Regions from separate parts of the Homo sapiens genome. Here region 1 is linked to region 2. Evidence: fine-mapped expression QTL. A gene starts in region 2. The other region holds a variant in brackets. All regions are shown on one strand. Distances are between the middles of the regions.

What was found.
Region 1: its variant is fine-mapped to the expression of ELAPOR1 in whole blood (INTERVAL, PIP 0.97).

The regions. Positions count from the first base shown.
Region 1 is chr1:109,187,263-109,192,635 of GRCh38, reverse strand. ELAPOR1 (endosome-lysosome associated apoptosis and autophagy regulator 1) reads right to left here. Exons shown (of 22, transcript NM_020775.5): 9 at 4,282-4,459; 10 at 3,442-3,570; 11 at 2,954-3,044; 12 at 1,165-1,270; 13 at 773-910; 14 at 1-25. Among named protein-coding and RNA genes, the nearest start is that of SARS1, 24 kb to the left of the region's middle. The variant G/A (reference allele first, on the strand shown) is at 3,178.
Region 2 is chr1:109,111,333-109,116,705 of GRCh38, reverse strand. ELAPOR1 (endosome-lysosome associated apoptosis and autophagy regulator 1) reads right to left here and starts at 2,591. Exons shown (of 22, transcript NM_020775.5): 1 at 2,370-2,591. The coding sequence starts at 2,522. It overlaps CFAP276 (cilia and flagella associated protein 276), which reads left to right and starts at 3,959. Exons shown (of 5, transcript NM_001245025.3): 1 at 3,959-4,107. The coding sequence starts at 4,027. RefSeq lists a silencer at 2,770-2,839.

The DNA of each region.
Region 1 (5,373 bases), 76 kb before region 2:
CAACGTCATTGGTGTACTTCCTGCTCTGGAGACAAGGAAACAAGAGGGGAGAGGGGAGAGGCCTGAGACAGCAGCAACAATTGAGGCCTCTAGAAAGAGCAAGGTACTTAATCTTCTATCCTGTGATACTTAAGAAGAATCTGAGAAGCATCTGACTCTTTTTACTCACTTACCAGTAGCTCTTCGTGTGCATTTGATGTCATTTTAAAATGAGACTGAACCATTTATAGGACATATAAAAATGTTAAGTACCATGGGGAAAATATAATATATACAGTTTTATGAAAAAAGCAAGTCTTTTCCTTATAAAAGAGAAAAAAATGTACTTGTGCAGAAACAAACAGTGTATAGGAGATTGTCCAGATGTTAACTGGTTTATCTCTGAGTAGTAGGATTATGGCTGATTTTATTTCTTATTTTTGTTTATTTTTATTTTCTGTGTCTTCTGCAATGAGCCTGTATTCCTTTGAGTTAAGAAACTAAAACCAGAGTTGTTATTATTAAAAACAACAACAAGTCTGGTAACACATGTATCAGGGCAGGGACTACAAGGAGGGCCAACTTATTTCTTATGGTGTCATCTTTCCAGGAAGTCAGCTGGACAAGACTAGGTGGTCCTCAGAGGGCTGGGTTAGGCAGTTTTCTGCTTGACCCCCTGAGATCCTTCTAACCCTCAGATTCTGAACTTCACACTCATACTTAAGCTAATGCTAGGAGTCCTCCTGGGTTCAGAGGGTCTCTCCTGGGGGTCTGAGGAAGGGGAGGAACTTACTGCCTCATGAAAAGTGGTCCTCTGGAAGGCCCAGGTGAAGCTCGTGGTAGTGTTCTCCTCAATGATGTAGGTATAGGACTGTTTGCCTTTGGAACCTTTCCACGTCTCCACAGGAGTGTTGGTCCTAGAATTCACACCCTGAACCCAGGACAGACAAGTGAAGCGGGTGCGATGGCCAGAGGGGAAGTGGGTGCCCATGTGGCTGCCATCCCAGGTGCCATCACGGTTGGTGAGACCCTTGTTAAACTGTGAAGTCCCTGCTGGTCAGTCTGGGCCTTTCCTCTGTGGAATCACTACAAGGGGGGGTGTCAGTCACGTGGACACACCAATGGGGCAGATGGGGCTAACCCTCCCCTGGAGGCCCTCTAGCGGGCAAAGAAAGGAAAACGTACCACCATGAAGTAGAGCTCACAGTTCACAGAACAGAGGGTCTCAAAGACAAATGTGATTCTGGCCACCTCTTTATTCTCTGTGTCTGCCATCACCGACTGCGGAGGTCTGTAGGGGCAGAAATTAAAAGTCAGTTCTAAAGGCCAGGCAGTGCTTATTGAAGAGCCCAGACAACAGCAGAGCGTCTGCTGGGGGACAGGGTTAAGTTCTGAGTATGATGGAAAGCGTGTGGACTAAATCCAATTCTGCCCTCCTAGCTATGTGACCTTGACCTAGCCAAACCACGGTTTCCTTATCTGTAAAATGGAGGTGATGAAATCTCTTTCTTACCTACCCCCCATCATCGCGGGGAGACCTGAAGGCATGACAGATGTGGCGGTCCTTTATAAAATGCTGTATCACCTCACTAGCAGAATATGGTCCACAGACCAGCAACATGGCCATCTCCCAGAGTTTATTAGAACTGCAGAACCTCAGGCTCCTCCCAGGCCCAGTGAATCAGAATCTGCATGTTAATACGATTCCCAGGCGATTCGTGTGCACATTTATGTTTGAGAAGCACGTCTATCATAAGACTGTAAATTGTTGACATTTACTCAGCAGCTGTCTCTCCAGCACTGGGGAGCTTTGCCGGGGTTAAAGGAGCAGAATTTGTGATCCAGCAAAGTCCTCCGTTTGGTCCTACTTTTGGGAAAGAGAGAGCCATGCCCAAGCGGGCTGGGGTAGTAGTGGGGATGGGGGATGAGGCAACACTTTACTATGACGATCAGATTTGCAAATTGGAAAGTACTTTTTGAATGTTATTCCAAAAAAAGCCTAAAAAGTTTGCTCACCTTGCAAACACAGGCTTCATTCATCTGGCTAGCTCTGAGTAATGTGTGTTAAGGGAAGGCAAACTGAGCAACATCCCAGGGATGGGAAGCAGGGACCTCGAAGAAGGAAATGAAGGTGTCAGACTGGCACTAGGGAAGCATATTCAGTGCCTGCTTCTTATCTTTAGAGCACATATGGGCAGAAGAGTTCACTTTGGCCTTGGAAATTCATTCACGGCTTTCCTTTTGGCTTTAGCCATTTGCCTGAATTCTGAGGACCTCCAGTTCTCAGCTTATCTCTATGCAGCTGTGTTAACCAGCGGGCTGGAAAAGCCATCTGAACCTCAGTTAGTCTTAAATCACACACTGTTTTTATGGATGAGGGGCCCGAAGCCTGAACAGGTGAAGTGACTTTTCCTAAGGTCGCACGGCCAGTAAGCGGCAAAGCACAAGTGCCCTGTCTTCCAGTCTGGTGTTCCTTCCACCACACCACACTGCCAGGAGGTGTGTGTGTGTGTGTGCGTGTTTGTTTGTTTGTTTAGTGGGAAACAAATTTCGTGTTGCCCTAGGTCTTCCTGGGATATGGGGACAAATACAGTAAGAATAATCCTTCCCAATCTTCTTGCCCCAAATAAAGATGAACTGTCTATGGGCATTTCTGACCCCATTATTTTTTATTTTTATTTTTTTTCTAATCTTAAGTGATGCTGTGAGGAGGAAGAATTTGAATAGCACGTGACTAATGGCTGGGAGAAGCTATACGGGAGAGAGAGCAGTCGGTAAATCAACATGGGCAGCAACTTGAAAAACGTGATAGCATTGGGTTACCTCGGTCAAACTGTACCCTCTGTTCTCAACTGACATTTGAAATGAAATGAAACACAACCCCGGAAGCCCTCTCCTCTACAATATTCCAAAATACGTGGGATTCGGATATGGCCAAGCTGGCCTGGACTCCCCTGGGCTTTGGATTCCTCACCTAAATCCTGGCACAACCAGAGTGAGAATCATGAAGTCATTGTCTGAGGCTCCAGCAGCTGTGTAAATGTGATCACCAGCCACCTCCCAGCCTGAAAAGGAAAGAGGAGAGTTAATGCCTTGTGCTCTTGGGTGCAAGGCAAATGTGCACCCAGATGACACTCTGGAAGGGAGGTTTGACACCATCTTTTGAGGCGCCCAGAACCACCACTGAACATGAACCGT[G/A]TTACTTATCCTGCCACTTTGGTCAAAAACCCTGAAGCTCTCAGAGCAAGACCTTTGAAGTGCACGCTCATGTTTCTAGCTCTGTTCCTTCCTCTAAAGCTGTCTTGGCAGAACATATGTCCATGAGGAGTGGAACTTTCAAGGGAATGCATGACATGGTTAGCTTATTTTTCTCAGACATCACTATTATGAAGAAATGTGAAGTTGGAAGAACTGAGGGTGTGCAGGGAGCTGACAGCTCATGGCACAGGGAGAGGCAATTACCTGTCATGCCCTTGTACTCGAAGTTGATCCCACTGAGAACGGTCGTTTCCATGTTTGTGGGCAGCGTGTTCCACCATTTGTATTCAAATCCCACAGCAGGTTCAGTCCCTGCAGGGCAGCGGGTACAGTCTGGGGAACCACAAACAAGATCCATGCATTCAGTGGGAAGGCTGCAGTCACTCTGACTGGAGCTGCTGCCACACAGACAAGTTGCAACAGTAGCGGGCAGCCCAGAAGCCTGGCTGCTGAGTACTGCTGCAGGAAGTTGTATCAAGTTGACTCAAAAACATTCTGACAATGTATTTAACTCAAGATGTAAACACTGAGCCTTCATTCCAATATGCCAACCATCCTATTTGCCCACCCCAATTTCCATTTCAAAACTTAAATGTACCTTCTAGTCTGATACATATAGTTCATATTATTGTCATATTATCATTAAATGCTTTCATTTTAACAGGTACTCAAATCCCCCCAAGGCAGCATGGCTTATAGGTTTTGGTTGTGTGGGGTTGGTCATCCCAGCCCTGTAAGCCTAGTCAGCATCTCTGCCATATGCTGGAAGCCCTGCTTTGAGGATTGGGCACCTTCAGTCCTGAGTCACATTTGCAGTTGGAGCAAGGAGGAAGGAAGGCAGCCTCAAGTATGACTCTGACCTGCAGACGAGGCCAGCCCTGACCTCTCTTCTCCTGAATTTAGTCCTCAAAGGTGGCCTGGTCCTTATTCCTTACTGCCTCCCTTGGAAGGGCAGAGTCTGCATTCAGCTGGCCACTGTTAGTGCCCACACAGCCCACCCACACAGTCGATGTGCTGCAGAGAGTGGGGTGGTGAGGAGGTTACCTGAGCCATTGGAGTAGGAACCATATGGGCAGGGCTGGCAGGTGCTGTTGTTGGTTTTGAAGAAGCCTGGGTTGCAGGGTGGGCAGTGGGTCTTCACACCAGAGGCAGGCAGCTTCACTGCCCCCTCAAGGTCCTCGCTACAGATTTTCGGCTTGGCCCATTTGTACATGAGTTGTGTCTGCAGAAATGGATTAAGCACAACTCAGCCTGTGTGAGATTTAGGACATCTTTGGGACTCTACCTTGAGGATAGGGGCTGGGGGCAGAGATCCAGATTCTGGGCCAGGTAAGAGCTCCTCTGGGGTGGGGAACTTTGTGTGGCTCACGGATGTATCCCAAGCACCTAGCCCAGTGCCTGAGTCATGGTTGTGTTCAATCACTATCTGCCAAATGAATGTTGCCTGGGTGACAAGGAATAGCTCTAATGAAGACTTTATGACAGAGAATGTGGGACCAGTTGTCTTAGAGAAAGCTCCGATTCCACTGTAGAATCTTATTGCTACCAAGGTCACAGGAAAAGCAGCTGGTGAAAATCCCAGAACACAGAAAGGCACAAGGGTGGAGGTGGCTCAGATGTCCCCCGGGGACTGAGGGGGTGGCTGAGATGTCCCCACTTATTTTTTGAGTGGTACATTCTTTGCTCTTTTATTTATTGGGTAAATCCTAATGCATCTATGTGCCAGACCTGGTGTCTCAGAGATGAATGAAACATGGCCCCTGCATTGGGTACAGAAGTGGAGATGACCCGCAGGAGACCCCGGCTGAGTCAGGGGTGAAGGTGGGCAGCTCCATTCTTCCCATGTGGCCCTCAGATCGAGTCACAGACAAAAACGTGCCCTTATAGGTTGAACTGAGGGGTTGATGAACATGATCTGTGCAGATACCATACATATGAAAAGAAGGATGAATAAGGCCTCTGTCCATATTTTTCAAGATAAGAAACAAGTCCTTAAGGAGGGACACAGACTGCCTTAACTGATGGGGAGCCCTGGGCTCCTCCTTCCCCTGCTCAGCTCGGCCCTCTTCCCTGCGGAGGGCTGCGACAGCCAGAGCCCCAGGCTTGAACCTCACCTGCCTCCTGTGAGTCTCAGGG
Region 2 (5,373 bases):
CACCAAAAAAAAAAAAAAAAAAAAAGAACAGAGAAGAGCTGGTCTACCTTGAATTGGTTTTTCACCATTTGGGGTTGGAAGCCCCCAAACTTGTTTGATCAGTTCATATTGCCAAATGAATACTATAATAATGGGTTTATTCTCTCCCTGATTGTTTTGGAGTTGAGGGTGTTCAATGGCCACTGTTTGCTCAAGGAGAATGTAAACAGGACTTGCTGACGCCTGTGGCAAATGGGCATGCCTCCTAAGCCATTTCCAATCTGGCATGGGGTGTGGATCTAATGGGAAAGAAGCTGAACAGAGAAGGAGGGTGGGTAACTCTCTTTTGTGTTTCCAATGTATTTTCTATTTCAATACTCAAAGCAATCCTTTCTGAGGTAGGTGTTATTTTGATACCCATTCTACAAATCCAAAAACCACGTGGTAAGTAACAGGACTGAAACCCTGGTAGGTTGAGCTCCATAGCTTTCCACTACCTTAAGCTTACACTTTGTGGCAAGACCTTTTGCTTAGGCAAATATTGGTTATTCAAACAGGACCAAAGGCAAAATTCGTACACAAGTTCGAGTTCTCAAGTATCAATATTCTTCCCTTCCTCCAAACCAAGATAATAGAAGTGCTTAATTTCTGAAATGTCTCATATTTTCCATTGTTGACAAAGATCTCAACAAGAATTGGTAGTTAAACTGTATGATTCTTACCTTCCACTCAGGAAACTCCCTTGTTTGATTCTTAGGCAAGTGGGCTTTCTTGGTCTCATTATTTTGGTTGGTTAGACCACAGGCCATCAAGGCCAGTGAGCCAGTCACTGATAAGATCATACTGTTCCCTGCGATCTCTAAAACAGGTCATAATGCGGCTAGGTGGAAATGTAGATGGCCCAGGGCAGGTTGTCATTGGAGCTAATAAAGGTTATCAAAAGTCCCACTCACTGGGGTCACTTATGTCATATTCATGAATCTTCAAAATCAAGTATCTTTATTCACACAAAAATCCTCCCCCCCACACCTGACTTCTTTATGACCTGCTGTGCTGTAGACACAGAACATCTTTATAAGAATTTATCTCCATATGGGATGGAGTTGTTGCCAATCAGTTCACACTAACAATTTATAAAAAATATTCTGGGCTGGGCGCAGTGGCTCATTCTTATAATCCCAGCACTTTGGGAGGCCGAGGTGGGAAGTCGCTTGAGCCCAGGAGTTAGAGACTGGCCGGGGCAGTATATCGAAACCTCATTTCTATTTTAAAACATATATTTTTTAAAGTAAAGAAAATACATCTATATATATATTCTAACCTCTCAAAACCTTAGTCAAGCTTGATATTTGGGATTAAATTTACAGAGCTAGATGCTTGACTTTTTATGAAGTCCTTCACATTTCACAGAAATAACAGAACTTTTATTTTGCCTTCCCCAACGTAGTTCTTGTAAATATCTTATTGTTGCCTCTGCCATATGGTTTCTAAAAAAGTTGCTCAGAGCACAACCAAATATTGTTATTTCAATAACATAGAAATGACTTAGTTTTGTTGCTGCTAGTGCCCTTTTATGTTCCTCCAAGATGACTTTTCAAAAGCTATTTTTGGTTATAAGAGATTGACTACCTATTGTCTGAATTCTGCTTCCAACATATTGGAAATACCTTGAAAAAGACTTTGACATATGTTAAGTCAGAGAAGGAGACTAGAGGTTGGCAGAACACAAGATATTGAAGAACTCAAAATCTGCAAAAAGGTGAGTCGTGTACTGTCAGGTACACTAAACATAGTACGCTGCGGGGAGGCCAAGCTATAAGGAGGAGACACATTTTACAGTCTGCACTAACCGATGTTTAATAAACAAGGAACTAGAGAGCTGGAATCCTATCATCCCTCTCGCACATCTCCCACCTTCACACTCCGTTTTGTGTAGCCATGATAAAACCACTTCGCTCTGATACTTTTTTCTGGCCTTCCTAACTCCTTTCCTCTCCCACTACTCTTCTTTCCTCTTCCTATTTTGCTTCTCTGTGCATAATCTTTTCTTGTCAACCACTTTTAAGGTGAGTTCATCCTAACTGGAAAATAACTCGTCTGCCTCCCTCATTCTGAGTTCAGGTACCCAGGTAGCTCCCCTTCTTGGGGCTGGGACCTTTCTCGCTGAGCTCAGCATCCCAATCTGTGAGGATGATCTATCCGTGAGTCCTCCAATGTGCTGGCCTCCTCATGACGCCAGACTGGCTCCTCTTCCCTCCCCCCACGCCTCATCCCCAAAGAAATCTAAACTCCGTGGCGTCTGAAACTCTCTGCGCCTGGGTCCCCAAGGTCTCCGCCTGGATCCAAGACTTTTGTGACCAAAGCGGGATCGGGTAGGGGGGCGGCAGTACCTCTTTGCAGGCATGAAGCTCCGGTCCCGTTCCCTGGGTCACCTGGAAGGCGGTCCCAGCCCAGAGCAGCAGCCGCCACAGCCGGGGTATGCGCCTCTCAGTTCTTCCCCTGACTCTGGCGGAGAGATGGTGGCTGTGCCCAGGCTCAGCCATAGCGTTGTCCTGAGTGAGCGGCAGTAGCGGCTCAGGTGCTGCGGCTGCTGCTTCTGCTGGCAGAAGGCGGAAAAAAAGGGGAGGGAGGTACACAGGCGGAGGATGCAAGAGGCCAGGCTCGCTTCAGTCACCTCCCTGCGGCTACGCCAACACCGCCCATCCTTCCTCCTCCCTCTGTCCTCTCCTCCTACCCACGTCGCCTTGACAACCGCCTCCTCTCTGGCTCCGCGCGGGTGGGGCAGGGACCACGCGCGCCTCTGCAGCTCACCTGCGGGTCGCCATGGCAGCCGCCGCCGCTGGTGCGCGCGGCGTGGGCGCGGGAGAGCGCGCGCCCGGGGTGCGCAACCGGCCCAACAGGCAGGCCCGGGGCTCGTGTGAAGAACACAGTGGAAGCATCCTCCAAGCCAGCCAACAAATTTCCGTTTTCTACTGCCCTTTCGGGCCAGGGGTTATTTTATGAGCATCTCCGATGTTGCACACGTGGCGTGTGAACCGAGAGAAAGAAGATGGAGAGATCACCCTCCAGACGTCGTCGCCTGGAAGAGGCCCCAGTACGTGTTCCCTCCTACGAAGGCCACTCCTGGAGATCTTACATCCCGCCAAATCCATCCGTGCTTTTACAACCGGCTAGAAGAGAAGCCCTGACACTGTAGTTGATCCGAGTTTAAGCGAGGAGTTTGCCTTAGCCGCAATTTCCCAAGCGCCGCACGTGGGCCTCTCTCTCTCTCTCTCTCTCTCTCTCTCTCTCTCTCTCTCTCTCTCTCTCTTTCTCTCTCTCTCTCTCTCTCTCTGAGACAGGGTCTCACTCTCTCGCCCACACTGGAGTGCAGTGGCGCGATCTCGGCTAACTGCAACCTCCGCCTTCCGGGTTCAAGAGATTCTCCTGGATTAGCCTCCCGAGTAGCTGGGACTACGGGCGCGTGCCACCAAGCCCAGCTAATTTTTTTCCTACTTTTTGTAGAGACGGGGTTTCGCCATGTTGCCCAGACTGGTCTCGAACTCTTGGGCTTAAGCGATCCGCCCGCCTCCGCTTCCCAAAGTGCTGAGATTACAGGCGTGAACCACCGCGCCCGGCCCTCTTTGGTCTCTTGACATCCTCATTCTCTCATGGCTTTGAAAGCCTTTTGTTAGGTGCGAGGGAGAAGGAAATTTCTGGGTCATCTTTCAGGACTTCTTTCCTCAACTGAAGTCTTTTGCAGAAGTCCTGATGGTGAGCAGCCAGCACTTTTCCGCCGAGGCTCAGGAGTGCAATTCCAAGTCTCGGGCCCGCTCAGCGGAACGTTCCCTCTGCAGTCCCCGGAGCTTCCTCCCCAGGGGCCTCCCGTGGTCAGCCGCCAGGTGGCGCCCTCCTCTGAGGGAATTCCTCTGTCATAGATGGCTGGGCAGTTGCCTGGCAACCGAAACCAGCGCTCCAAACAATTGGGACCCGGGATCTTATGCCAGTGAGGCTGTGCTGCGGCTGAGCGGGCCTCCCATCCCTCTTAAAAGAGTTAGGCATTTAGCCATGCCTCCCACCCGGGACCCTTTCCAGCAGCCTACATTAGATAACGATGATTCCTACTTAGGAGAACTGCGGGCTTCCAAGGTACTGTGGTTTCTTGCGCAGATTCCCAGTAGGGTCGCCGGTAGTCTTCTTTCTGTCTGTGTGATGAGCAGAGATGGTAACATAAAGGACTCTGGTGAAGACACTCAGTCGGGTACCAGGGAAGTCTGTTTTCTGCCTGCCTCCCTATCTCCATATTCAAGTCGGCTAACGTTTCAGAGGCGTTTTTGAGCAGAGGAAAGTAGAGTTCTAGTCTAGAGGAACAAGGGGCTCTGGCAGCTCAAATCAATTGTGAGTATAAGTTATGGCAGTGCCCAGGTTCCTTCAAGCTACCCATTTCCCTATTTGGAAGACTGTTCTCTGAAGAGAAATGAGATATGGAGTGGGAGAGAATCCTCTGAAAGCCACCAGAGGTCATGCTTTACACATCTGTGTTCACACTGTCTCTGTCTTCTGGTTAACACCACAATATGTTTGTTATGTGTGTGTTTAGCATGATGGTGGACACTGATTTCGGAACTTAGATGATCTTTTTTCTGGTAGAAGTGATTGGGATATATGAAGTGGTGCACAATAAGATGAATTAAGTGGTGATTGTGGTCTAATAACAATATTGAGAGCCCCTTTTTATTTATTCAATACTTATTTACTATAAGCCAGACACTCTGCTAAACGCCAAGGATATATAAATAAATTAGATGTAGCTTCTGCTGTCAAGGAACTCTAGTAGTAAAGAGAGACCGACAATAGCAAAAATGCTTGCACAATAGCACATGTTGTGACAGAGTTGTGTGCAGGGTGCCGTGAGAACCAGGAACTTAAAGGAAAGCTTCACAGAGCAGATGCATTTTGATGTCCAAATATGAGTTAGGTAGGCCAGGTGAGGGAGTGGATAGAATGTGAGTTAGGAAGAAGGAAACAGGAACCAGATATGCAAGGCAAAGGAAGCAGCAGGTGCAAATACATGGAAAGGAGAGAGAGAATGGCTTATTTGGGGAACTGCAAATAGTCTAGAAGGGCTGGAGTGTAGGCGTGCAATGGAAGCACTCAGAAATCAGAGCTGGAGAGATGCCCTTGGTTGGCTGGGTGTGCTGTGTACACCATGCTAGCTAGCTATGGTTTCATCCTAGGGATGTGAGGAATCATTGTGGGATATTTTTTTTTTTTTGAGACAGGGTCTCCTTGCTCTGTCACCCCAGCTGGAGTGCACTGGTGCAATCTTGGCTTACTGCAGCCTCGAACTCCTGGGCTCAAGCAATTCTCCCACCTCAGCCTCCCAAGTAGCTGGGACTACAGGTGATGCCACCA